Linked DNA regions of Homo sapiens. The protein of the gene in region 1 purifies or fractionates together with the protein of each later gene. This does not show direct contact. Each region holds a gene or a part of one and is shown in the gene's direction. Other genes may lie near its edges. The genes, in order: KIAA0930, FRYL, ATG7 and SIRT2.

Region 1 (7,515 bases):
CATTAGGCAAACCCCGGGCAGGAACTCTGAAAAATGAAGCAAGACTGACCTATTAAAGCAATTGGATTGTGGTTGTTTTTTCTTTCTGCTAAACTTTGCTTGATTGTTGTTCTAAGTGTTTGCAAAATAAACCTCAGGGATAGAAGCGCTTAGGTGGAGAGCTGACACAATGCCCACATCTCAGGCTTGCCCACGTATTGGTATCACTGCTGTAATAATTACTACAACGTTATTGCCTTAACACATTTCCAGTTCTGTAGGTTAGAAGTTCAACTGAGGTCTTGCTGAGCTAAAGTCAAGGTGCAGGCAGGGCTGTGTCATATCTGGGGGCAACTGTAGGAGAATCTGTTTCCTTGCCTCTTCCAGCTTCCGGAAGCTGCCTGTATGCCTTGTCTTGTGGCCCCTTCCTCCCTCTTCAGTGCCAGCAACATTGCATTTACCTGACCATTCTTGTGTTGTCACATCTCTTTTTGACCACAGCCAGGAAATGTTCCCCGATTTTAAGAATTTATGTGATGAGATTGGGCCCACTTGGATAACCCAGGATAGTCTCCCTATCTCAGTGTCTGTACTCTTAGGCCCCATGTGGCAGCTCATGCCTGTAATCCCGGCACTTTGGGAGCCCGAGGTGGGCAGATCACTTGAGGTCGGGAGTTCGAGACCAGCCTGGCCAACATGGTGAAACCCTGTCTCTACCAAAAAATACAAAAAATAGCCGGGTGTGGTGGCACACACCCTTAGTCCCAGCTACTCAGGAGGTTGAGGTGGGAGGATGGATTGAGCTGGGGAGGTGGAGGTTGCAGTGAGCTAAGATCGTGCCACTGCACTCCAGCCTGGGCAACTGAGTGAGACCCTGTCTCGAAAACAAACAAACAAAAAATCACGTCAGCAAAGTCCATTTTGCCAGGTAAGGCAACATATTCACAGGAATTAGCACAGGAATTAGGGTGTGGGCATTTTGGGGCCATTATTCTGCCTATATACTTTCAATTCTATTTTATATTCTGAATATTTGTATACAGAAAAGTGCATAAATAATTACAAAATGCCAGCTTTATATATATATTACATACATATATTACATATATAACATATATATTATATATATTACATATATATATGTTATATATACATATATATATATTTTTTTTTTGAGACCAGGTCTCACTCTGTTGCCTAGGCTGGAGTGCAGCAGTGTGATCGCGGCTCACTGCAGCCTTGACTTCCCCGCCTCAAGCAATCCTCCCACCTCAGCCTCCTGAGTAGCTGTGACCACAGACGTGTGTCATCACACCTGGCTAATTTTTTTTTTTTTGTAAAGATGAGGTCTTGCTATGTTGGCCAGGCTGGTCTCAAACTCCTGGGCCTAAGCCAGCCTCCTGCCTGCCTTGGCCTCCCAAAGTGCTGTGGTTACAGGTTTGAACCACAGCACACAGCCTTTTGATTTTCTAACTTTTTTTTTTTTTTGAGATGGAGTCTCGCTCTGTTGCCCAGGTTGGAGTGTAGTGGCACAATCTCGGCTCACTGCAACCTCTGCCTCCCAGGTTCGAGCGATTCTCCTGCGTCAGCCTCCAGAATAGCTGGGACTACAGGTGTGTGCCATTACGCCCAGCTAATTTTTGTATTTTTAGTAGAGATGGGGTTTCGCCAGGTTGGCCAGGCTGGTCTCGAACTCCCGACCTCAGGTGATCTGCCCGCCTTGGCCCCCCAAAGTGCTGGGATTACAGGCGTGAGCCACCATGCCCAGCTGTGCAGCCTTTTAATTTTCATAAACTGACCACACCCGTGTAACCAGCCCCCAGATCAAGAAACAGAACATGCTCTGTAGCCCCAGAAGTCCTGCTCCTGCCCTCTTCCCATGCACAGTGTGATTTAGCATTTGTTGACATTAGAAAATTCTGTGTATATGTGAGGTCAGGAGTTCGAGACCAGCCTGACCAACATGGAGAAACCCCATCTCCATGAAATTAGCCGGGCGTGGTGGCACATGCCTGTAATCCCAGCTACTTGGGAGGCTGAGGCAAGAGAATTGCTTGAACCTGGGAGGTGGAGGTTGCGGTGAGGCGAGATCGCGACATTGTACTCCAGCCTGGGCAACAAGAGCAAAACTCCGCCTCAAAAAAAAAAAAAAAAAAAAAGAAAGAAAGAAAATTCTGTGTATAGGTAATACCTGGAGTATTATTGAAATACAAAGGAGAGAGCCCAAGCGATGTTTGTTTACTCATTCATTCAACAGATATTTTTCTGGCACCAGTCCTGGGCTGGGTGCCACGGGAAGTGGGATGAATTGGTTCAATGCTGGTCATATGACACAGAATACACGGAGGCAACTGTGTGCAGGAGGGTGGGGTGGGGAAAGGGGGTTTGTGAAGCAAATAAGAACACAATGCATTGGCCAAGCGTAACCAGGCAATGTGGGTCCCAAAGGCAACTACAGTTGCGGAGCAGAAAGGATTTCAGGCCAAGGGAACACTGTGGGCAAACGCATGGCAGTGGGAACAGGCAGGGGGTGCTGTGGGGTTTGGGGAGGCAAAGAGGGATGTGACTATTGGACTTGACAGCCTTGGAGCACTCGCTCATGCTGTCTGATCCACCATCCCCAGTTCTCACGTCCACCAGCCCAAACCCCAGCTCTCCAGACGCAGAACCAGAGGCCTCAGCCCTCATGCCAGTGTCCTCACTTTACAGACAGGGATGCAGGCCCACTGGAGAAGAGAAATACACGTGAGGCTGGTCGCGCACTTCCTTCATTCCCTCACTGCTCACCTTTCTACAGAGCCCTCCTGGGCCTGGCACTGGGGACACAGAGGGGTCAGATGTGGCTCTGCTCTGAAGAGTTCAGGGGCCAGTGGCACAAAACTGGGGCAGAGGCCTGAAGCAGGATCCAGATCCCATCTCCCTTCTGGGGCTCTGCCCAACCCCACGGCTCCTTCCTGCTGTGCCTCCCAGGAAGACCCCTGCGTCCCCATCAGACCTCTCCATCATTCTTCGTTTATGCAGCCTACATTTTTTTTTCTTTTCTTTTCTTTTTTTTTGGGGGGGGACAGGGTCTTGCTCTGTCTCCCAGCTTGGAGTGCAGTGGCGGGATCTCGGCTCACTGCAGCCTCCGCCTCCCAGGTTCAAGCAATTCTCCTGCCTCAGCCTCCAGAGTAGCTGGGATTACAAATGTGTGCTACCATGCCCGGCTAATTTTTGTATTTTTAGTAGAGATGGGGTTTCACCATTTTAGCCAGGCTGTTCTGGAACTCCTAACCTCAGGCAATCCACCTACCTCGGCCTCCCAAAGTGTTGGGATTACAGGCATGAGCCACTGTGCCCAGCCTGCAGCCCATATCTATTTATTGGGCATCTAATGTGTGCCAGGCAATGTTCTGGGTACTGAGACAACAGCTGTGTAGTAGACAGGCCCCTCCCTCGGTAGAGAAGAGAACAAGTGAACCCATAGGTATCCAATGTGTCGGGAGGAGGTAAGTGTCACCCTGTGAAGGAGAAACAGACTAAGGGAAGAGAGAGGGAGGGAAGGCGGTCAGGGGAGTTTCTTTGAGGATGTGACACTCGGGACACAAAGGAAGCAAGTTACACAGGAATGGGGAGAAGAGGACTCCAGACAGGGGAAAGGGGGACCTTGATGGGTCTGGGGTCCACACACAGGCTGTGAATGCAGGGAGTGATGTAGATTTAGCTTTGGAGAGACCTGGAAATCAATGCTGGTCTCTCCATCTCCCCCTGTTCTTGGAAATGGACCACCAGGCGTGAGGTTTGGGGAGGCCACTGGCTGCTTCTCCGGTGTCTTCCTGTATCAGCCACAACTAGCACACGGAGGGATGCTGGCCAGACCTGGCTTCATCAGGATGACACGCCCAGCTAACCTCATACCTCCCCCTTCATCAACACTCCCCCATGTTGGGGAGGCAAGGCAGGGAAAGGTCCCCCATGGTGCAGCTGAGGAAATGGAGGCGCAACACTCTGCACTGTGCCAGGTGCAGAGGAGGGGGGCCGGAAGGGCTTTGCCACGGTGTCCCCCAGGAGACCACCTTCTGGGAGCAGGTGACCTCTTGAGGGGTTCTGCGGAGGAAGTTCCCAGAAGTCAGCCGAGGGGACTTGGTGGAGGTGGCAACGCACAGGGCGGGTGACAAAGTACACATCCCGTGGGGTAGCAGCGGGGGAGGGGAGAGGTGCCCTGAAGGGGCGGCGGGAGGGGCTCAGAGGCGTGATCCCGTTGGTGGGGCGTTTAGGACCTTGGGTGGAGGCGGGACCCCGCGAGCGGTTTGAGGGAGGCTGTCCTGGGCATCCGAAGATTGGCGGAGACTGGCCGTTTGGAAGTGGGCGGGGCAAGGGAGGTCAGGGGGCGGGGCCAGGGAGCCGGGGTGGGTCCGGGCCGTTCAGAGGCGGGGCGGGAGGGGACAGGGGCGGGGCCGGGGCGGGGAAGGGGCGGGGCCGGACCGGGGCCGGGCCGGGCCGGGGCGGGGCGAGCGGAGCCGGGGGCGCGCGGGCGGCGGCGGCGCGGAGGTGCGCTCGCCGGTGCTGTGTTTGGCGGGTGGTGGCGGCGGCGGCGGCGACGGCGACGCGCACAGAGGCGGACTGTGGCTTCCTTGGTGCTCGCGGCGGGCTGCGGGCCGGGCCGCCCGCCCTCCCCGCCGCCGCCGCCCCCGAGCCTGCGGGCGGCGCCGAGGCCGAGGAGCGCTCGCTGCAGCACATGCTGCGTGCCATAGCGGAGGAGCGCGGCCGTCTTAGCCTGCGCCGCGAGGTCTGCGGCCTCGGTGAGTGGGACCCGGGGGCGAGGCCGGGCCGGGAGAGGTGAGCGTCTCCGGGGCCGCCTCTGCGCGTCCGTGTTTCTGTGCGCCCCGCGCATCTCTGTCTCTGCGCGGGTGTCGTGGTCTCTGGGTCTGCCTGGGTACCCTGTCTTCCTCCATGGCCCCCCCCCCACCGTCCCTGCATCTGGGTCTGTCTCTGCTTTCCGTCCGACGAGCGCCCCGCACCCCTGTGCCCGGGTCTCATTCGGCGTCTCCCCCTGTCAGTCCGTCCGGGTGTCTGTCTCATCTTCCTCCTTCTTCTTCGTGTCTCTGCGGGTCTTCTTCCTTCTCCAGGAAGCCCGCCCCGGGCCCTCAGCACCGCGGTAGGGAGTGTGGGCGTGGGATCTGGGTACACCCTTAGCCCAGCGCGGCAGGGTCGGGCCCTCGTTGGGCTCTGGGTGGACCTCGCTGCGAGCGTGCCCTGGCCACTGTCTCCTGCTACCCGAAGCCTTTGTCTTTCCGCACCCACCGGCCCCTCTCATCCCTTAGCTGTATCCAGGGACCTGTTGGGCAATGGCCCCCCGAACCCGCCCGCTTGGCTGAGGGGCAGGGCCTGCTGCCTCTCGGTGTGATTCTGGGCTTTAAGTCATGGATCTGCTGGGGGGCGTGGGATGGGGGTGCCTCGTATTGTTTGGAAGGGCCTGGGACTGCAGGTGTGGGTGGGGTCTCCCAGCCAGTGAGGTAATCCATTACTGATGGATCATGCCCAGACTGAAGCCCAGGAGAAGCCCCCTCTTTTGTCGTCTCAGGTTCGTCATTTTCTCCATGGAAAAGACCCCTCCCTCCTCCGTGCAGGGAATGACTTCATACCACATTGTCAGCCACCCCCCACCCCACCCCCAGGCTAGGCTGGGGATTTCTGAGGGGGTGACAGCATTGCTGAGTACGGAATGTCAGCCTTCCAGATTCACCCCTTCATTCACCGTTGGGGAAACTGAGTCCCAGAGAACAAGTGCATCCCCCTAAGGTCACACAGCTGCAGGGACATGGCAGTCCCAGGCATTCAGGGCCCCTCAGCAGGCCACACCCTGGAGGCTGGAGTGGAGAGAGGAAGTAAATTTGAATCCCTTTTGTAGGAGGCAGGCTTAGCATGGGAGGCTTCCCAGTGAGCAGGCCCCAGCCTAGCCTGCCCAGGCGAGCCTTTCCTCATGCAGGGGTGGGGTGGGGGGTGCTTATGAAGTGAAATGGACAAGAACTTCAATGGTTGACAAGGTTTCAATGGTTTCTTTCTGAAAAGGTGTCAAGATTTACTTTTGAGCAGAAGTTGGAGCGTGCTTATTCATTCATTCTGCAAACATTCATTGAGCACCTACTGTGTGCCACCGTGGCAGGCCCACCTGTCAGCTGGCACCGAATATCTGAGCTGGGATGCATCTGAAGGACCATCTGCTGCAGGTCACTTGGCCCTGTTTGCTCAGCAGCTTCAAGCAGTCCCTCCCCACTCCCCTGTCCACACACACCTATTGTCCTCTGACCACCTTTACCTGTGAGCACCTTCTCTCCTCTTCTAGGCAGCCCCTCCCGCAAGGAGGCTGCAGGGCCATTCCCAGAAGAACAGTGAACAGTGAAAATGGCACCTAGCATTTACTGAGCACTTACTATGTGCCGGGTGCTTTACTCATGCTGCAAATTTAATCCTGACACAATGCTGACTTTGCCAGGGAGCAGTATTATCTCCATATCAGCGATGAAGAGCCTGAGGGTGAGAGAGAGAGAGAGAGAGAGAGAGAGCCTGCCCAGGGACAACCAATGAGGAAGCAGCATAGCAGCATAGCCGGGACTGACCCTCTGCCAGCCTGACCTCAGAGCCTGCCCTCCACTCCCTGAATATCCCCAGCCAGGTCTTTATGTGCCTACGATACTCACGCTGTTTCCTTGTCTCTTCTCCAGGCCTCCCGCACGTGCCAGGTCTCCCCTCTTCCCCTGCTGCTGAACTCAGTCCCTGCAGGGCTCTGAAGCAGAGAAAACCTGCTGTTTTCTCTGCCCGGAAAGCCGCCCCTACTCATGTGCCCCACAAGCATCTCTAAGTTTTCCTTTAAGTCTCAGCTCCAGTGTTGCCTCTCCGGGAACTCTTTCCAGCTCCCAGGCACACAGTCCTGTTCTGCCTGTGTTCTCTTTGTGCCAGGCACATGTTTGTTGGGACAATCAGGATGATTGTGGCCTTGTCATGGTCTGTGTGCTGTCTCCCCAGTTAGCAGGTGAGGCCTTCAAAGGCATTACCCAGTCTGATTCATCTTGGTGCCCAGCATGGGGCACATACGGAGCAGGTGCCCAGTAAACATTTAGTGAACAAGTGAGAAAATTATTATCTGGACTGGCAGATGAAGGGCGTGGAGGGCCACGGAGATGGGAATCTTAGCTTCTTAGAAGGCCTCATTTTTGGCCGGGCGTGGTGGCTCATGCCTGTAATCCCAACCCTTTGGGAGGCTGAGGCGGGCGGATCATGAGGTCAGGAGTTTGAGACCAGCCTGGCTAACATGAGGAAACCCCCGTCTCTACTAAAAATACAAAAAAAAAAATTAGCCAGGCGTGGTGGCGGGCGCCTATAGTCGCAGCTACTCAGGAGGCTGAGACAAGAGAATGGTGTGAACCCGGGAGGCGGAGGTTGCAGTGAGCCGAGATCACGCCACTGCACTCCAGCCTGGGCTACAGAGTGAGACTCTGTCTCAAAAAAAAAAAAAAGGGCTCATTTTTCAGATGAGAGATTTGATGTTCAGCGAGG
Region 2 (7,037 bases), on another chromosome or scaffold:
GGATATACGATGCCATTTTAGTGCCTTAGTGGCGAATATTATTCAGAATGTTCCAGGTATTATTTTCAGTTTCTTAAAGCATTATTGAGTATTAAGGAACCGTCATATTTTTTCTTTCCTTGAGGTTTAATAATCTAAGTTGATAAAGTAACGTATGAACATACTGGAAAAATATGTCAGCATAACCTGGATGGCTGGAGTTTGTTTTCCCTTTGAATTATTGTCACTGATTAGAAATAAAAAAGCAACCCAGCATAGAATTTCAGTAATAATCAGGATACTGACACAAAAACCTGGAGAAATCAATAGAATAAGCTCTTTAGGATAGCCTTGTTTTAGATGCAATAAGCAGAGTGCAGTGTCTCATGATAATTGAGAATAAAATTAAGAAGATACTTTTGAATAATGGGAAAAGAGTATAGGCCATAAATACAAAATGTAACAAGGATACCGTGTTACTGATTTACCAGATATGTTCCAATTATTGAGTAGGGTCTATATCGACAGATACTGGTTTAGATACTAGGAAGATTAATATACACAATTACATTTTTAAAAGTTAAATTATTTACAACTGTAAGAAGTAATGTGACTAGCCTTTGGCATACACTATAAGTGTTTCTTTTTCTCTTTGAAAAATTAAAGTCACATTGTTATTTTGAATAGTATATACAGACAGTGGATACCTAAAGAACATGGGTTGTATTTTATAACAGGGTCATTAAGCACTTAATTACATATGTCAATTTCAACTGTAGGAGCCTTGTTTTCATCTTTGAAAGGAAAATGACACTGTCAAAGGAAAAGAGCATATTTTTTTCGAAATTTTCTGATCTGAAGCTCACTAATATAAAGATGTGGTTTAGTCTATTACTAAACACTTTTTTACAACTTCCACATTGGTTTATTGTGATACTGCTGAGTTTCTTCAAGAAGGATAGATGTAGAGAAATTATATAGTAGAATTTCAAAATGGGGGAAAAAAATCCTTGGAGATCATTTAAACCAGTGGTTTTCAAACTTTGGTGTTTCTCAAAGCCCTGAGGTTCTCTGATGCCATCCGCAGAAAGCAGCAGAATGTGTTTGGACACTAGGCCTGAACTGCCCTTTTATCTGTTTTATATACTGAGATTACATGTAAGCTTCCTTTAGCAGGAAAAGGCAGCTTTCCTGCTGAAAAAAAAAAATAGAAAGTTTGAAAACACGTATCTCGTCCAAAGCCCTTACTTACCAGTGAACCAAGATACAGAGGTGTGTCTGTGTTAAAATCTTGGCCAATCTTACCATATAGCCAGTGATAGCCCAGGGAGAAATGGACTCCTGGCCCCACCTCTGTGCCAGCCTTCATGTGCCATTGAGCCTGCCATGGAATTTCTGCTTGCAGAGATGCTCTATGTCATGTAATGCTGGGACAGGGTGACACAGACTGCAACTTTGTTTCTGTGATTTGCATATATATAAATGATCCCTGCTACCGCGGAGGTTTTTGATAGTTTAAAATGAAAACTTCTGCTTTCTTTTTTACACTATTACACATTCAATAACATGTTGGTATAAAAGTTAAAGCAAAAAGAAATGGAAATAAATGTTTTCTATCTTTTTTTATTCACAGTGCACCAGAGAAGAAGTATTTTTCCTCAACAGAGCCTTCGTCACAGTCTATTTATGCTGTTCAGTCACTGGGCAGGTCCTTTTAGCATCATGTTTACGCCCTTGGACAGATACAGTGATAGAAATATGCAAATTAATAGACATCAATACTGTGCGTTAAAGGTATTTACTTAGAAACCTGATTTCTTTTTTCTTAAGAGCAGAGTTAAGTATTTTTAAGTCTCTCAGTCACTAGTATTAAAAAGAGGATCTGAGAGTATTAAAATGTTTTTCTGCCATATTCAAAACTTATACCATAAGTTATATTTAAATACATAAAATACAATGAAAAACAGTTCCAGAATCTACTCAAATTTGATCACCATTATCTTAAAGAACTTAGGATTACTTGAAAGAAATGCCTTTTTTCCCTTACTTAATTACTTTTTCTTGGTCTTTTTATCTTCCCTTCCAGTACTGTTCAAACTCCATGTCTAATTTGGTATCATATTTACTTACTCATAATAAATTTCTCAGTTTTAAAAAATAATTTGTAAAGAAAAAAGATTAAAGTATTGTGACTAGATAAGTATTTTGCCTCTTCTCATTAAGCAACCAACATTTAACCTCTTAAATTTGTTAAATGTAATTCTAATATTATTATTTGAAGGCTATGTCTGCTGTACTGTGTTGTGGCCCTGTTGCAGATAATGTAGGACTTTCATCAGATGGCTATTTGTACAAATGGTTGGATAACATTTTGGATTCTCTGGACAAAAAGGTAATTATGACAATTTCCTTAAAGGTTCATAATAAGTTGTCATTGTATTATTTGCAGTTAATGTATGTTGCACTAAAAACAAGTCTTTTAAAAAAATAAGATAGGTTAGGATCATATGCAAAAAGCATATTATATAAAGTTAAATAGGATCCCATAATGTAAAAACGTTCCAATTCTTATGTATCATTAATTTGAATAATTTTCATTTCCCTTTTTATATTATAGGATTAATACAGTGGTATGTGTCTCTCAACAGGGTTCTAAGTCAATAAATAAAATACCAGCATAGAACATATTGAGCTGCATGGGAAAAATATGTTATTTGCTATGTTTCATTTCGTTTTTTTAACCACTTTCCATTTAATCATTCCTCCTTGCCCTCCACACTCTGCCTTCCTTACTCTCATATTGTACATATACAGACTTCACAATTTAAAATAGGACTTACATTTTTTCCCCTCAGAACAGTTTTTCTATTGGGTTATCAAAAACAAGAATAAAGCTTGATAAAAATAATTGGAGAGGTTAATGACTCATTTTTCTGAAAGCACCTAATCACTATTCATATTCATTAACTGCCTTCAGGGCTCTGTTGGAAGACAAAATCATACTAGAGAGGCTCGCGTAAAAAGCGAGAGGCCAAATTCAGTTCATCTGTGTGGTTTTTTCTGCTGGCTGAATAAAATGAGAGGGAGGTGAACAAAAGGAGATGGAATTTTTCTATTAATTACAATGAATATATGCACTATATTACTTTAGTAAGAACTATAGGGAAATAGACAAAAAATATATAACGTTCTCTCTCGGGCAATTTCACAACCTTTACCTAGGTTCACCAGCTGGGCTGTGAAGCAGTTACGTTGTTACTGGAGCTGAACCCTGATCAGAGCAACCTGATGTACTGGGCTGTGGACCGCTGCTACACGGGCTCCGGGAGGGTGGCGGCCGGCTGCTTTAAAGCCATTGCTAATGTTTTCCAGAACAGGTACTTTAGATACAGGTTTTTTGTTTCATTTTGTTCTGTTTTCTTAAAGAAAAGTTTTTCTTTTGAATTCAAAAATAGGAAGACACCAGTTTAGTTGTCCTTCAGTATCTGTGGGGGATTGGTTCCAGGACCCCTCTCAGATCCCAAAATCCATGGATGCTCTAGCCTTCTATATAAAATGCTGTAGTATTTGTATTTACTCTATGCAAATCCTCCCGTATACTCCTTTTTTTTTTTTTTTAGACATGGTCTCGCTGTCACCCAGGCTAGAGTGCAGTGGCATGATCATAGTTCACTGTAACCTCAAACTCCTAGGCTCAAGTGATCCTCCCACCTCAACCTCCCGAGTAGCCAGGACTGTAGGCTCCCACTACCATGCCTGGCTAATTTTTAAATTCTTTGTAGCGACGAGGTCTCACTACGTATGTTGCCCAGGATGGTCTTGAACTCCTGGCCTCTCACTTTGGCTTCCCAAAGTGCTGGGATTTCAGGCATGACCTGCCGCGCTTGGCCTTTCCCTCATATTTTTGATCCACAGAGGGTTGACTGTATTTTCTTTTCTTAAGCTCAAATGCAGCCGTGTCTAACCCTTTGAATGTGAGGACCTTTTTGCTTATCTGTGGTGGTGGATATTACAAAAATTATGCATGGATTTTTTTTTTTTTTTTAGTTCATCAGCTGTTTTTAGTGTATTTTATGTGTGACACAAGACAATTCTTCTGATATGGCCCAGGGAAGCCAAAAGGTTGAACACGTGTGCTCTAATGGAATTTAACCAAAATAAGGACAATTATCACCATGCATCTGTTGTTGTACCTATTGCCTTGAAAAAACCAAGTCTCCTCATAGGCTTAGAAGATAGATGCCTATAAGCCTTGCCCTTTGCATATCATATTTATTAAATGGTGCAAAAGCCTCTAAACATTGTTATTTACTTAATATGTAAAATTTATTCCTAGGGATTATCAATGTGACACAGTGATGCTTCTAAATCTGATACTGTTTAAAGCAGCTGATTCTTCTAGAAGTATCTATGAAGTTGCTATGCAACTTTTACAGGTTTGTAAACATGTGAATTTAAATATTTTTTTACTCAGGATTTAATGAAGCCCAATAATTTAGTCTTGCTATTAAAGCATACTGATAATAGTATTTAGCTTTATTTATAGTAAAGAAGTTATGGTATCAAGGCCTAATTATTATTAGAAGTATAAGACAAAGATAATATAGATATTTAAATTTATAAGTAATGCAGACTATTCCTAAGTGTATTGTAGAAGGATTATTTATGATAATGTGTGTGTATGTGTATGAAGGTACTTATAAATATGTGTCCATGTAAGTATTTCTGTTCAGCAGATGAGAACAATGTGTGTCCAAATTTTTTTGGAGAGCCATGTGAAAAATAATTAGCTCTTTTTATCATATTCTCATGTAAATTTTCTTTATTAGGTTGAGGAGAAATAACTTAGAAAGTTAACTTACCAAACACGGATATATTGTTAGTATGCAATACTTAACTAATTCATAATAGGGCAAGATTCTTCCATCTTAACCAAGGGCTAAGAATAGGATTCAAGTAGGTGCTTTTTCCAAAGGCTCTGAAGTGGTTCTGATGCCAGTAGATCCATCTTAGGAATTATACCCTAATGCCTTTGTTAATTAAGAGGAAAGTTCAGCAGTACAGCTCTTTAAATAGTGTAATGTCGAAAGGTCCTCCTTGAAGGGTTTTTTTTTTTCACTTATGCATATATTGTACTACCATATTTTTGTGCGAGAAAAGTGGTAAATCTTTTTCAAGTAATCGTATATTAAGTTGCTGGAGTTATTTTCAGACTGTGTTACTAACCTGGATCATTGGCATTAAATACGAGGAATGTAAATTCTTTTAGTGAGAAAGAGTTTTTGTTTGTTTTGTTTCATTTTGTTTTTGAGATAGGGTCTCACTCTGTCACCCAGGCTAGAGTACAGTGGCACAGTCATGGCTCACTGCTGCCTCTACCTCCTGAGCTCAAGTGACCCTCCACCCTCAGCCTCCTGAGTAGCTGGGACCACAGGCACACACCACCACATCTGGCTAATTTTTTAATTTTTTTGTAGAGATGAGGTCCTGCTATGTTGGCCAGGCTAGTCTGGAACTCCTGGCCTCAAGTGATCCTCCCACCTCTGCCTTCCAAAGTATTGAGATTACAGGCATAAGCCACTCCACTCAGCTGGGGAGAAGAGTTTTTTTAAAAATTATAAAATTATAGTTAAACTTTAGAGAACCCATAAAATCTTAACCTAAGTTGATGGAATCACATTCCTATAGATTCTGGAACCGAAGATGTTTCGCTATGCTCACAAATTGGAGGTTCAGAGAACAGATGGAGTACTCAGCCAGCTGTCTCCTCTACCACATCTCTATTCTGTTTCATATTATCAGTTGTCCGAGGAACTAGCAAGGGCGTATCCTGAGCTAACTCTCGCCATATTCTCAGGTATGATCAATGAACTGGTTAGTAGTTTCTATTTGTCAATCATTTCTTCAGAAACAATTTTTAGAAAATTATAAATTTATTAAATTACAGGTTAAATCAAAACCAGACATGTCTTTACATAGGAAATATTTTTTTCTTCAATAAGAACTCTTAATTCTGATCAGTCACAATATTTAGGTTTTTCTATCAACGGCGTCCTTATAGGGTTTTATACCTGACCTTCCCTTCGCTCCCTACTCCATCAAAAAGAAAAAAATACAAGAGGGACGACTTTTCACATGTGACTTAAAAGTATTTCTTAGTAGACATAGGACTTCTTGAATACATTGTATTTTGTGTATTGGCATATGTTTAATAATAAAAATAGGCAGGGATAAAGTTATAGGCAGTTTTCCGTGAGCGAAACCCCTAACCATAGGAGCAGGTGGTACAGTGCCTCGAGCAAAACTCTTTCTAGTCTCCCACATGTTGCTTGTCGCCTACATCAAGATCTTGTTCCAGTGTAAGTACTGGCCATGCTCCAACACTGGGATCTGGGAGATTGCAGAGTTCTGCTGTGGGTCCTTTATTTCATTTGGGCTCAAGAGATAGTGGACTTAGCTGGCTTGGGATCTTTGCACAGCACCTATTTTAGCAATAGAAATAGTTTATTTCCCATCCCTAATTGACCTGAGTGGGAGAAAAAAGCAATAACAACAACTTAAATTCTCATAACATTTAGTTCTTGAAAGCAGTTGACCTGTTTGGTTTGCCCTGGTAGTTGGTAGCAATGCCTCTTCCTTTTTCCCAACCCCCGCATCCGTGACAGCCCTTCCAAGATGAATATGAGTGATCATCAACACAAAATAGCGGCCGCCGTGAACACAGATTTTGTGGCTGCTGAGCTGCTGCTAGAGGCTTTTGCACAGAAAGTAGAGGAGTCCAGCTGGGTCTCAAGAGATCATGTAACTGTTTAGAATGTCATGTCATCGCCTAGGATGTGTGCTGGTACAGGTGTCCACCATGCCCACACCCCCACCACCTTGTCATTCTTCCTTCAGTTCTCTCTTCAGACACTCTTGTCCTTAGCATCAGCTAATTTTAACTCCTTTGCTTAAGATAGTTCATTCTAAACCAAAACAGCCTCTCAACCTGACAAATTCCATAGCTAACCTACATTTTCACTTTCACTGTTTCTAAGGCAAGACAAACACAATATTCA
Region 3 (2,806 bases), on another chromosome or scaffold:
TGACCCAGTGACGCCAGATTTCCACCAAGGACTGAGTGAGCTGCTCAGACATGGCTTTCTGCCTCCCAGCCTGTCCTCCACTGTGGGCATAGCATCTGTGCCTGCCTGCCTGCTTGAGGGAGAGGAGTTTCTGCTGCTGCCTTGAGCTGGGGGGAAGAGCCCAGGGGCAGATCCTGGCAGCTGCCTGGATGGGGCTCCTCCCTGCCCTTATGAGCAGGCCAGGCCCAGAAAGGCCGAGCCTGGGCTGCCTTCCTGCCCCAGCCGAGGGAGGGGTCAGACGGCTCTACCATGGGTAACTCAGGCAAGAGCTGGTTTTCCTCTTTATTCTGGGTGTGTGCAGCTGTGAGGCCCCAACCCAGGAGAGGCCATGGCCTAGGTACCTGTGACCACCCTGCCCCCGTGTAGAGGGCATCGTCTTTCCTGCTATTTTATTCTTTCAGCTTTTGTCTTAGGCCCAGAATCAAAGTGAAAATTGAGTCGAGCTGACCCTTACAACAGTAGGATTTAGTAGGGTAGATTTCAAATGAGGCTTCGCTTCTCCCAAAGTAGCCAGTCCAAGTTCCAGTGGCTGTCGTTCAGCTCATGGGAGCTTCATGGGGACACAGCCGGCACAGGTGCAGGGCCCGAGTCCGCCCACCCAGCCTGGCGCTGAAACTGCACACGTACACTATGTGGTTTAAGAGCACTTTATTATTGTTCTTAAGGCTACTTTTAAGTACAAAAAAAGATGGCCTGCCAAACCTTTTTTTTTCTTCTTCCAGGAAAAACAGGCCACAGAGAATGGTATATTACAGATTTACACACATGAAGAGAAGGTCAGAGCGCACTGCAGGCAGCGCGGCTCTGGGAAGAACTTCACGGAGCCCCTTCTTAGAGCAGGGAGGGGGCTTTCTCAGTGAAATGTTTGGTTTTCTGCTGCCTCCTCTGCCCCAGGCCCCCCTCCAGGGTACTGCCTATCCCAGATAGGTCAGTGCACCAGGGACCCGGCCGCCAGCACCGCCGACCCCTCCCAGAGTGACGCCCTTGTTCACTGACAAAGAGACCTGTCCCAGGAGTGTCCTCCACCGAGCCGGTCAGCTGTGGGTGGTTTTCCTGTTACGACGCTCAGTAGCCTGTAGCAATAACAAACTCGTGGCTATGAATGCAGATGCAGTGTTCTCATAGAATAACTGTTCCTGCACTTTTACAGACAAATCTACGACAAAAAAAAAGATCAACTTTTTTTTTCCGAACAACAAAAAAAATGAATGATTACAATAGGAAAGGGAAAAATTAAATAGCTACATATCATTAACAAATTAATGTTCTTCAAAAAATACCTACAAATTTCTCTGTACATTCTTTACGCACAGCGTAACGATGGTCTCAAAATCACCCATATAGAAAAGTGTTCTCAACGATTTTTCCTACAGAAAATATAGGGGCCTGAATGCCAAAGCTTGGAAGCCCAGTACAGTGGGAGTGAAATGTGTGCGGGGCAAGGAGAAGGGCTTTTCTTTCCTCCACTTTTCAAAGGCCTGCAGCCACTCTGTGACTACAAGAGCCAGTCCTCCGACCTTTTCACCCAGTGCCAATTTCCAAAATTCAACAGCTAAAAACTGTAAAACCGGGGGTCATACGGTGTGCAGAGTCCACAAAGCCTTGCAGGTGAGGTGACCACGCCCACGTCACCTGGTCAGGTGCCATCGTCGTGAGCCTCTGGTGGGCCAGGTGGGACACAGCACACCCCAGGGGGAGGGGATAGAAACGCTCATTGACCAAAAAGGAGCAGCTGTGACCTCCACAGCTGTGTCTGTCATGCTTGCTTCATCTAATTTCTAGTTAGTAGCTATTAATATAGCAAATAATAAATGCAGTAATAACAGTATAAAGTCAGAGGAATGTATACTGCCTTGGCCCCAGCGTACGAGGAAGCGTATAAAACACCATATCACAGATTGTCTGTCAGTAATCTGCTGTTCAGCCAAGAGAGTTCAAAGGGAGCAGTTTCTGCATGTAGGGAAGTTGGAAGACACAAACCCCACCTCCCCTGGGAGCTTGTAACAAAGCAGACAGGGATGCAAAAATAAATGATGTCAGCCTGCAGCCAAACTCCAGCATCCCACACCGCAGCTGACCCACTGCTCATCGCGAGGGCCTGCCAGGAGCTGGCCTCCCGCACTACTTGTGAGTAAAGTGAATATCAAATACCAATCTTAGAGTACAACTGTACCAGCAGTAAGTATATCTAGGACTGTAACTGACAAAAATAAACTAATTCTGAAAAGAAGATAGTAAGTATTAAGGTTTTTGTTTACTGTCTATATAATTAATAGAAACCAGCTATTTTTTCTCCATTAAAACATGCATCACGTTTAAAGCACTATGGAATCCTCCAACCTCAGCTCTAGTCTAACAAACTGCAGTGTTCAGAGAAGATAAAATGCCCGTGATTGGTAGAGTCTGCAGTCCAGTTGCAAGCACCTGAAATCTAGAGAGAGAAAGACCTATAACCTGTATGAGACTTCCCCTTCCAAAGCTGTATTGTCTACATTAAAAAAAACAAAAACAGTAACAACAACAAACACACAAATGGTCAGAAATGTCATCCTTAAACCCTTTGTTTTTCAGCAGTTTGCCCTCAGAGTTCTGGCATAACACATAAAGTTGTCAGGCAACTTTAGTCCTCCTCCAATAGTGCAAATCAGACACGACAGTTCTCTTCAAGTATACACACGCACACACATGGACCGAACCAAACACGCCGTGGAAGCTGAGCCACACACACCCCGGTCTCAAGAAGCAAAGGAAAAAGCACAAAGCGTCT
Region 4 (7,037 bases), on another chromosome or scaffold:
AAGGCCCTGCAGACAAATATTATGTAGCCATTAAGTACATGGGTGCTGGGCCCAGACTGCCTCGGTTCAAGTCCTGGTTCCTCGTGTCTTCATCTTACGACCTTGAGCCTCCGATTTGCCTCCTGTGAAGTGAAGCTAATGGTACTGTCTGAAGAGGGCTGCTGCGAGGCTTAGCTGACTAATGATGCCGTTGAGAGCCCGGGACCCTGCAGCCGGGCTGCCTGGGTGTGAATCTCAGCTCTGCAGCTTACCCACCGTGTGACTTTGGCAACACAATCCCCTTCCCTGTCCTTCAGTTTCCTCATCTGTGATCTGGGGATAGCAGTGGTCTCTCCCCGACGCGGCTGCTGTGACGGTTCCCTGGGGGTAAAACAGTCACAGTGCCTAGAACAGTTCCTGGCATGCGGCAGTGGCCTGTGGCTGTTCCCTGCAGTCGTCAGCAGTGCTGTCGCTCTTCCCTGCAGCCAACCATCTGTCACTACTTCATGCGCCTGCTGAAGGACAAGGGGCTACTCCTGCGCTGCTACACGCAGGTAGGCGGATGCGAGCATCCTGGGAGGAGGATGGGCGGGTGGAACGGGCATGGTGTCCTCAGCAGAGGAGCAGAGCTGCGTGCCCAAGAGCTCAGGCGGGGACTCCAGCAATGCGGGGCCAGGGCTTGGCCTACTGCCTCCTTGCTGCATGACCTGCCGTGAGTCACGTCTTCTCTGCCTCAGTTTCCCCTTCCGTCAAACAGGGGCCAGAAAAGGTTTGCCCTCTCAGGTCTGCCCTCTCAGGTCTGCAGTGCGGTGGCAGTGACCTCCTCTCAGGGCCATCCCATGTGTGATGTGGAAGGAGCCTATGGCTGAAGGGACTCTGTGTGCACTATAGGCACCCCAGATTTCACATTGGTTATGAGCGAGTTTCCAAAGTGACTTCATCTAACAAAATCCATACACTATGACACGTGTCCAACAAGTAGATGTTGTGCCTTAAGGAAGGGGCACCTTTTTATAGTTTTTTGTGCTTTGCCCAATTATAAACATGTCTCGTACACGTCAGGTGCTTAGCCAAGGGCCTCTCCCTGGGGCATTCAAGCAAGGATGGCTCACATTGTTGGCTTCTGGTTTGGAGAGTCTCACACCCCTAACAGTAAAAAAATCTTGATGGGCTGGGCACAGTGGCTCACACCTGTAATCCCAGCACTTTGGGAGGCCAAAGCGAGAGATAGCTCGAGCCCAGGCGTTTGGGACCCGCCTGGGCAACATAGGGAGACCCTGTCTCTACAAGAAATACAAAAATTAGCTGGGCAGGGTGGCGTGTGCCTGTAGCCCCAGCTACTCAGGAGGCTGAGGTAGGGGGATTGCTTGAGTTCAGGAAGTCAAGACTGCAGTGAGCTATGATGGTGCCACTGTACTGTAGCCTGGGAGACCTGGTTTCAAAGAAACAAAAAACAAATCAAAACAACAACAAAATGTTGCTGCCTCTACCTGTTTTATGAATATGTATAGAAATGACATGATGCACTACAACAGTATTAATTCAAGCTCTAGATCACACCTCAGAACCCCGAATTATAAAACAGGTGGCCGGGCGCGGTGGCTCACGCCTGTAATCCCAGCACTTTGGGACACCGAGGTGGGCAGATCACGAGGTCAGGAGTTCAAGACCAGCCTGTCCAACATCATGAAATCTGGTCTCTACTAAAAATACAAAAATTAGCCAGGTGTGGTGGTGCCTGTAACCCCAGCTACTCGGGAGGCTGAGGCAGGAGAATCGCTTGAACCTGGGAGGCAGAGGTTGTAGTGAGTCAAGATTGTGCCACTGCACTCCAGCCTGGGTGACAGAGCAAGACTCCATCTCAATTTAAAAAAACAAACAAACAAACAAAAAAGAGTGGTAACATTGAAAATAAATAAGTGTTCTAGTGTTTTCTCCCTGTACCTGCAGTTTGGCACCTGCAGCCCCAAAAGCTACCGCCAGGGGGAGGAACAACTGGCTTTAAGTTCAGATTTCTCAGGTGGGCGAGGTGTTCCCACCTGGGGCTGGTAGGAGGCAGAGGGCAGCGGAGGCCTCCTTCTTCCAAGAGGAGGAGTCCTGTGATCCCCACACTTTGGGAGGCCAAAGTGGGAGATCGCTTGAGCCCATGAGTTCAAGACCAGCCTGGGCAACATAGGGAGACTCCGGGCTCAGAATAAACCTTCTGCCCAGAGAGTCACCATTATTCCAGGACGTGGCTCAGATATGATAACAGCTTGCTTGAAGCCAAGTGCTTTTTGTGGTTGATGTCATGACACTCACCCCAAGACCCCGCTGGCCCTTGTTTGTCAGCTTCTGTCAAAGTAAATGTTCACTGAGTTGATTCCCTACAGCAGGGAGGGAGATGATGGACAAGATGGAGACACCATATACTGAGCATATAAGATGGTCATGGGTCCCTGGAACACAGTTAAGCTGGAAGGGGAGTCAGAAACGGTGTATGTGTTCGGGAAAGGGGGTGCTGTTGTAAACCCCATCTCTACGAAAAATACAAAAATTAGCCAGGCGTGGTGGCACATGCCTGTAGTCCTAGTTACTCAGGAGGCTGAGGCATGAGAGTTGCTTGAACCTGGGAGGTGGAGGTTGCCCTGAGCTGAGATTGCCCCACTGCACTCCAGCCTGGGTGACAGAGAGAGACTCCGTCTCAAAAAAAGAAAAAAAATGACACATCACATACAAACTATTATATAAAGGCCAGGCGCGGTGGCTCACGTCTGTAATCCCAGCACTTTGGGAGGCCAAAGTCAACGTCAGGAGTTTAAGACCAGCCTGGCCAACATGGTGAAACCCTGTCTCTACTAAAAATACAAAAATTAGCTGGGTGTGGTGGTGCGTGCCTGTAATCCCAGCTACTCAGGATGCTGAGGCAGGAGAATCACTTAAACCTGGGAGGCAGAGGTTGCAGTGAGCCAAGATTCCGCCATTGCACTCCAACCTGGGCAACAGAGCAAGACTCCATCTCAAAAAAAAAAAAAAAAAAATTAGCCAGGCATGGTAGTGCACACCTGTAGTCCCAGCTACTTGGGAGCTTGAGAGAGGAGGATTGCTTGAGCCCAGGATTTCAAGGCTACAGTGAGCTATGATCAAGCTACTGTACTCCAGCCTGGACCAGTAGAGCAAAATCCTGTCAAAAGAAAAAAAAAAAAAAACCATGTTGTCAAAGAATAACAGAACGCAGAGGTATTTCGGTGGTTCTTTTCCACGCTGTTCAGTTATTTGCTTACTGTTCAGTTATTTGCAAATTGCTCACTCACATGTGAGGGAGTCAGTGGGTAGACTGAGTCAAGTACCAAAGGCAAAACCAAGATTTAGAATAGTGGGCAAGGGAGGAAAGTTACAGGGCGTGTGGGAACAGTGACAGTGACTCTTGTCTGTAGGCTTTGGAGATAAGGTGGTTGCTGGTAGGGAGCCCAGAAGGCAGTTAGAGCATTCTTTCTGCCCTTGAAGGGAAACAAACCCTTCCCGTTGTTTCTGGAGTCCCTGGGAAACGCTGTCAGTTTGGCCCTGGGCCACACATGCGAGCCATCTCTGCGTAACCTCTGCCAGTGTCCTCTGTCAGCACCTGTTTTAGCGGCATTCCTCACAGGCAAACAACAGCTGCTCCAAAGGGGGTGGTTGTTTTAAGAAAAATGAGCGCGCACAAATGTCTGTGCAGAAAAGAACATTCCCACCTGTTTAATATGGAAAGTCTCACTGTCTTAAAAGAAAACAGTGGCCGGGCGCAGTGGCTCACACCTGTAATCCCAGCACTTTGGGAGGCTGAGGTGGGCAGATCACGAGGTCAGGAGATCGAGACCATCCTGACCAACATGGTGAAACCCCGTCTCTACTAAAAATACAAAAATTAGCTAGGCATGGTGGCGCGTGCCTGTGTTCCCAGCTACCTGGAAGGCTGAGGCAGGAGAATCACTTGAACCTGGGAGGCGGAGCTTGCAGTGAGCCAAGATTGCGCCACTGCACTCCAGCCTGGCAACAGAGCAAGACTCCGTCTCAAAAAAAAAAAAAAAAATAGCCACGCATGGTGGCGGGTGCCTGTAATCTCAGCTACTTGAGAGGCGGAGGCAGGGAGAATTGCTTGAACTCAGGAGGCAGTGGTTGCAGTGAGCCGAGATAGCGCCATTGTACTCCAGCCTGGGCAACAAGAGTGAAACTCCATCTGAAAAAAAAAAAAAAGAAAAGAAAAGAAAAGAAAACAGTGGCTGGGCATGGTGTCTCACGCCTGTAATCCCAACGCTTTGGGAGGCTGAAGTGGGAGGATCACTTGAGCCCAGGAGTTCAAGACCAGCCCGGGCAAATAGGGAGACCACCCCACCCCCCATCTCTACAAAAATAATTAAAAAGATAAAAAATTAGCCGGGCATGGTGGCATTTGCCTGTAGTCCCAGCTACTCAGTGGGCTGAGGTGGGAGGATGGCTTGAGCCCAGGAGGTGAAGGCTACAGTGAGCTGTGATCAGACCACTACACTCCAGCCTGAGTGACAGAGCAAGACCCTGCCTCCAAAAAAAGAAAAGAACACAGGTGAATATGCCATCTATGAAACAGGCCATAGTAAGAAAGGACCCTGGCTACTAAAGGGGAAGATAGTGATTAAAGCCAAGGAAGGGCCAGGCATGATGACTCACACTGTAATCCCAGCACATTGGGAGGCTGAGGCAGAAGGCTCGCTGACCAGCCTGGGCAACATAGTGAGACCCCATCTCTACAGAAAATTTTAAAAATCAGCCAGATGTGGAGGCTGAGGTGGGAGGATTGCTTGAGCCCAGGAGTTGGAGGCTGCAGTGAGCTATGATTGTACCACTGCACTATAGCCTGGGCGACAGAGTGAGACCTTGTCTCAAATACATAAAAAAACATGGCTAGGCACAGTGGCTCATGTCTATAATCCCAGCACTTTGGGAGGCCGAGGCAAGCAAATCACGAGGTCCAGAGTTCGAGACCAGCCTAGCCAACATGGTGAAACCCCATCTCTACTAAAAATACAAAAATTAGCCAGTCATGGTGGTGCGTGCCTGTAATCCCAGCTACTTGGGAGACTGAGGCAGGAAAATCTCTTGAACCTGGGAGTCAGAGGTTGCAGTGAGCCGAGATTGTGCCACTGCACTCCAGCCTGGGTGACAGAGCAAGACTCCATCTCAAAAAACAAACAAACAAACAAACAAACAAACCACACCTAGTAAGCCCTCCTGATTCATTTATGTTAATGCTTGCCTAGAGCTGCCACATGCAGCTGTGCAGGGTGCGCACTGCACAAGGATGCCACATCTGAGGGGGCTCCATTAATAACAGAGACATTGTAAATGTATGTTAATTTCAGCAATTAATGACAGGTGGAAATAAAGCATCTGGCTCTAATAAAACAACATTTTTTTTCTGAAAAATGAAAGCAAATGGCCTGAATTTGCAGAATAAAAGCCACACAGGCTGTGGAGTGGCTGTGGGCCTGGCCTCATAGATATTTAGGTTTGGGCCCCTTTTTTTTTTTTTTTTTTTTTAATTTTTTGTAGAGACAAGCGTCTTGATATGTTGCTCAGGCAGGTCTTGAACTCCTGGCCTCAAGTGATCCTCCCACCTCAGCCTCCCAAAGTGCTGGGATTATAGGCGTGAGCCGCCATGCCCAGCCTGGCCCCTGCCTTTAAGCAGCCTTGACTGTCACCCTTTAAGTGGCACCATTGGGATGAACAGAAGAGTCTTCAGATAAACCCTGCCACTTGCTTCTCCTCCCTCCCTTCTCCACCTGTCCCCACCACCTCACTGCTCCTCGTGGCCCTCAACTCCCTACTGTGCCTTCTGGCCTACAAGGGGTGGCTCACTCCTCACCCCTCTTCCCTCCATCTCTCCCTCTAGAACATAGATACCCTGGAGCGAATAGCCGGGCTGGAACAGGAGGACTTGGTGGAGGCGCACGGCACCTTCTACACATCACACTGCGTCAGCGCCAGCTGCCGGCACGAATACCCGCTAAGCTGGATGAAAGGTGAGGCTGGAGGGCATCCTGAGGGCAGGCCTCCTCTCAGCACCAGGAGCAGTGTCTCCATGCAGTGGGCACCCATTCTGTCCTGCTCAATTCTTTGGGGTTTTTTTGTTTTGTTTGTTTGTTTTTGAGACAGAGTCTCACTCTGTCGCCCACGCGGGGAGTTCAGTGGGTGATCATGGCTCACTGCAGCCCAACTGCCTGATTTCCTGTCTTTGGCTGTTTTTAATATATGATAGTAGGCCAGGAGCAGTGGCTCACACCTGTAATCCTAGCACTTTGGGAGGCCAAGGCGGGCAGATCACCTGAGGTCAGGAGTTCAAGACCAGCCTGGCTAACATGGTGAAACCCCGTTTCTACTAGAAATACAAAAAAAAAAAAATTAGCCTGGTGTGGTGGCATGCGCCTGTAATCCCAGCTACTCAGGAGGCTGAGGCAGGAGAATCGCTTGAACCTGGGAGGCGGAGGCTGCAGTGAGCTGAGTTCGCACCATTGCACTCCAGCTTGGGCAACAAGAGCAAAACTCTGTCTCAAAAAAAAAAAAAAAAAAAAAACAAGAAGTCACTTATTCCACTCATGGAAAGCCATTTCTGACATTCTTTATGCTGATTTAACAAAGCCTCTGGTGTCCCTGTGAGATAAGGACAGCTGCAGCATTTGCAGAAGGGCCTCTGGAGTGTGGCTGTTCTGATAAAATGCCAGCTGAGTGCCCCTGGGCTGAGGATTCCTGAATAGCCCAACTGCAAGCAGCTGGGGGCAGTGTACAATTCACATTACCCCCATTATGTGTCATTGACAGCAGCGTCACAGGCAGCACCCACGGTGTCATGCTGTCCATGCAGAAATATTTTAAAGAAAATTACCGACTACTGACATTGAAACAATGCTTTATAAATGTGTGCTGAATGAATGAATGGACAGTTGAGCAAATGACTTAGAATTCAGTGGGTTGCAAGTGACAGAAATGCTTTCTTTCTTTCTTTTTTTTTTTTTTGAGATGGAGTCTTGCTCTGTCACCCAGGCTGGAGTGCAGTGGTGCAATCTCGG

Evidence for each region.
Region 2: the proteins of KIAA0930 (region 1) and FRYL purify together in Homo sapiens (affinity purification with mass spectrometry; 3 studies listed by BioGRID and IntAct, with this or other methods). This does not show direct contact.
Region 3: the proteins of KIAA0930 (region 1) and ATG7 purify together in Homo sapiens (affinity purification with mass spectrometry; 4 studies listed by BioGRID and IntAct, with this or other methods). This does not show direct contact.
Region 4: the proteins of KIAA0930 (region 1) and SIRT2 purify together in Homo sapiens (affinity purification with mass spectrometry; 2 studies listed by BioGRID and IntAct, with this or other methods). This does not show direct contact.

What each region holds. Positions count from the first base shown.
Region 1 is NC_000022.11:45,237,885-45,245,399, reverse strand, and holds the start of KIAA0930 (uncharacterized protein KIAA0930), read left to right. Parts: upstream 1-4,505; 5' UTR 4,506-4,696; coding exon 4,697-4,760; intron 4,761-7,515.
Region 2 is NC_000004.12:48,560,267-48,567,303, reverse strand, and holds part of FRYL (protein furry homolog-like), read left to right. Parts: coding exon 1-56; intron 57-1,612; coding exon 1,613-1,773; intron 1,774-2,260; coding exon 2,261-2,371; intron 2,372-3,201; coding exon 3,202-3,356; intron 3,357-4,315; coding exon 4,316-4,415; intron 4,416-5,667; coding exon 5,668-5,836; intron 5,837-7,037. UniProt on the Homo sapiens protein: Plays a key role in maintaining the integrity of polarized cell extensions during morphogenesis, regulates the actin cytoskeleton and plays a key role in patterning sensory neuron dendritic fields by promoting avoidance between homologous dendrites as well as by limiting dendritic branching.
Region 3 is NC_000003.12:11,555,397-11,558,202, forward strand, and holds the end of ATG7 (ubiquitin-like modifier-activating enzyme ATG7), read left to right. Parts: 3' UTR 1-2,269; downstream 2,270-2,806. UniProt on the Homo sapiens protein: E1-like activating enzyme involved in the 2 ubiquitin-like systems required for cytoplasm to vacuole transport (Cvt) and autophagy.
Region 4 is NC_000019.10:38,882,583-38,889,619, reverse strand, and holds part of SIRT2 (NAD-dependent protein deacetylase sirtuin-2), read left to right. Parts: intron 1-464; coding exon 465-533; intron 534-5,863; coding exon 5,864-5,993; intron 5,994-7,037. UniProt on the Homo sapiens protein: NAD-dependent protein deacetylase, which deacetylates internal lysines on histone and alpha-tubulin as well as many other proteins such as key transcription factors.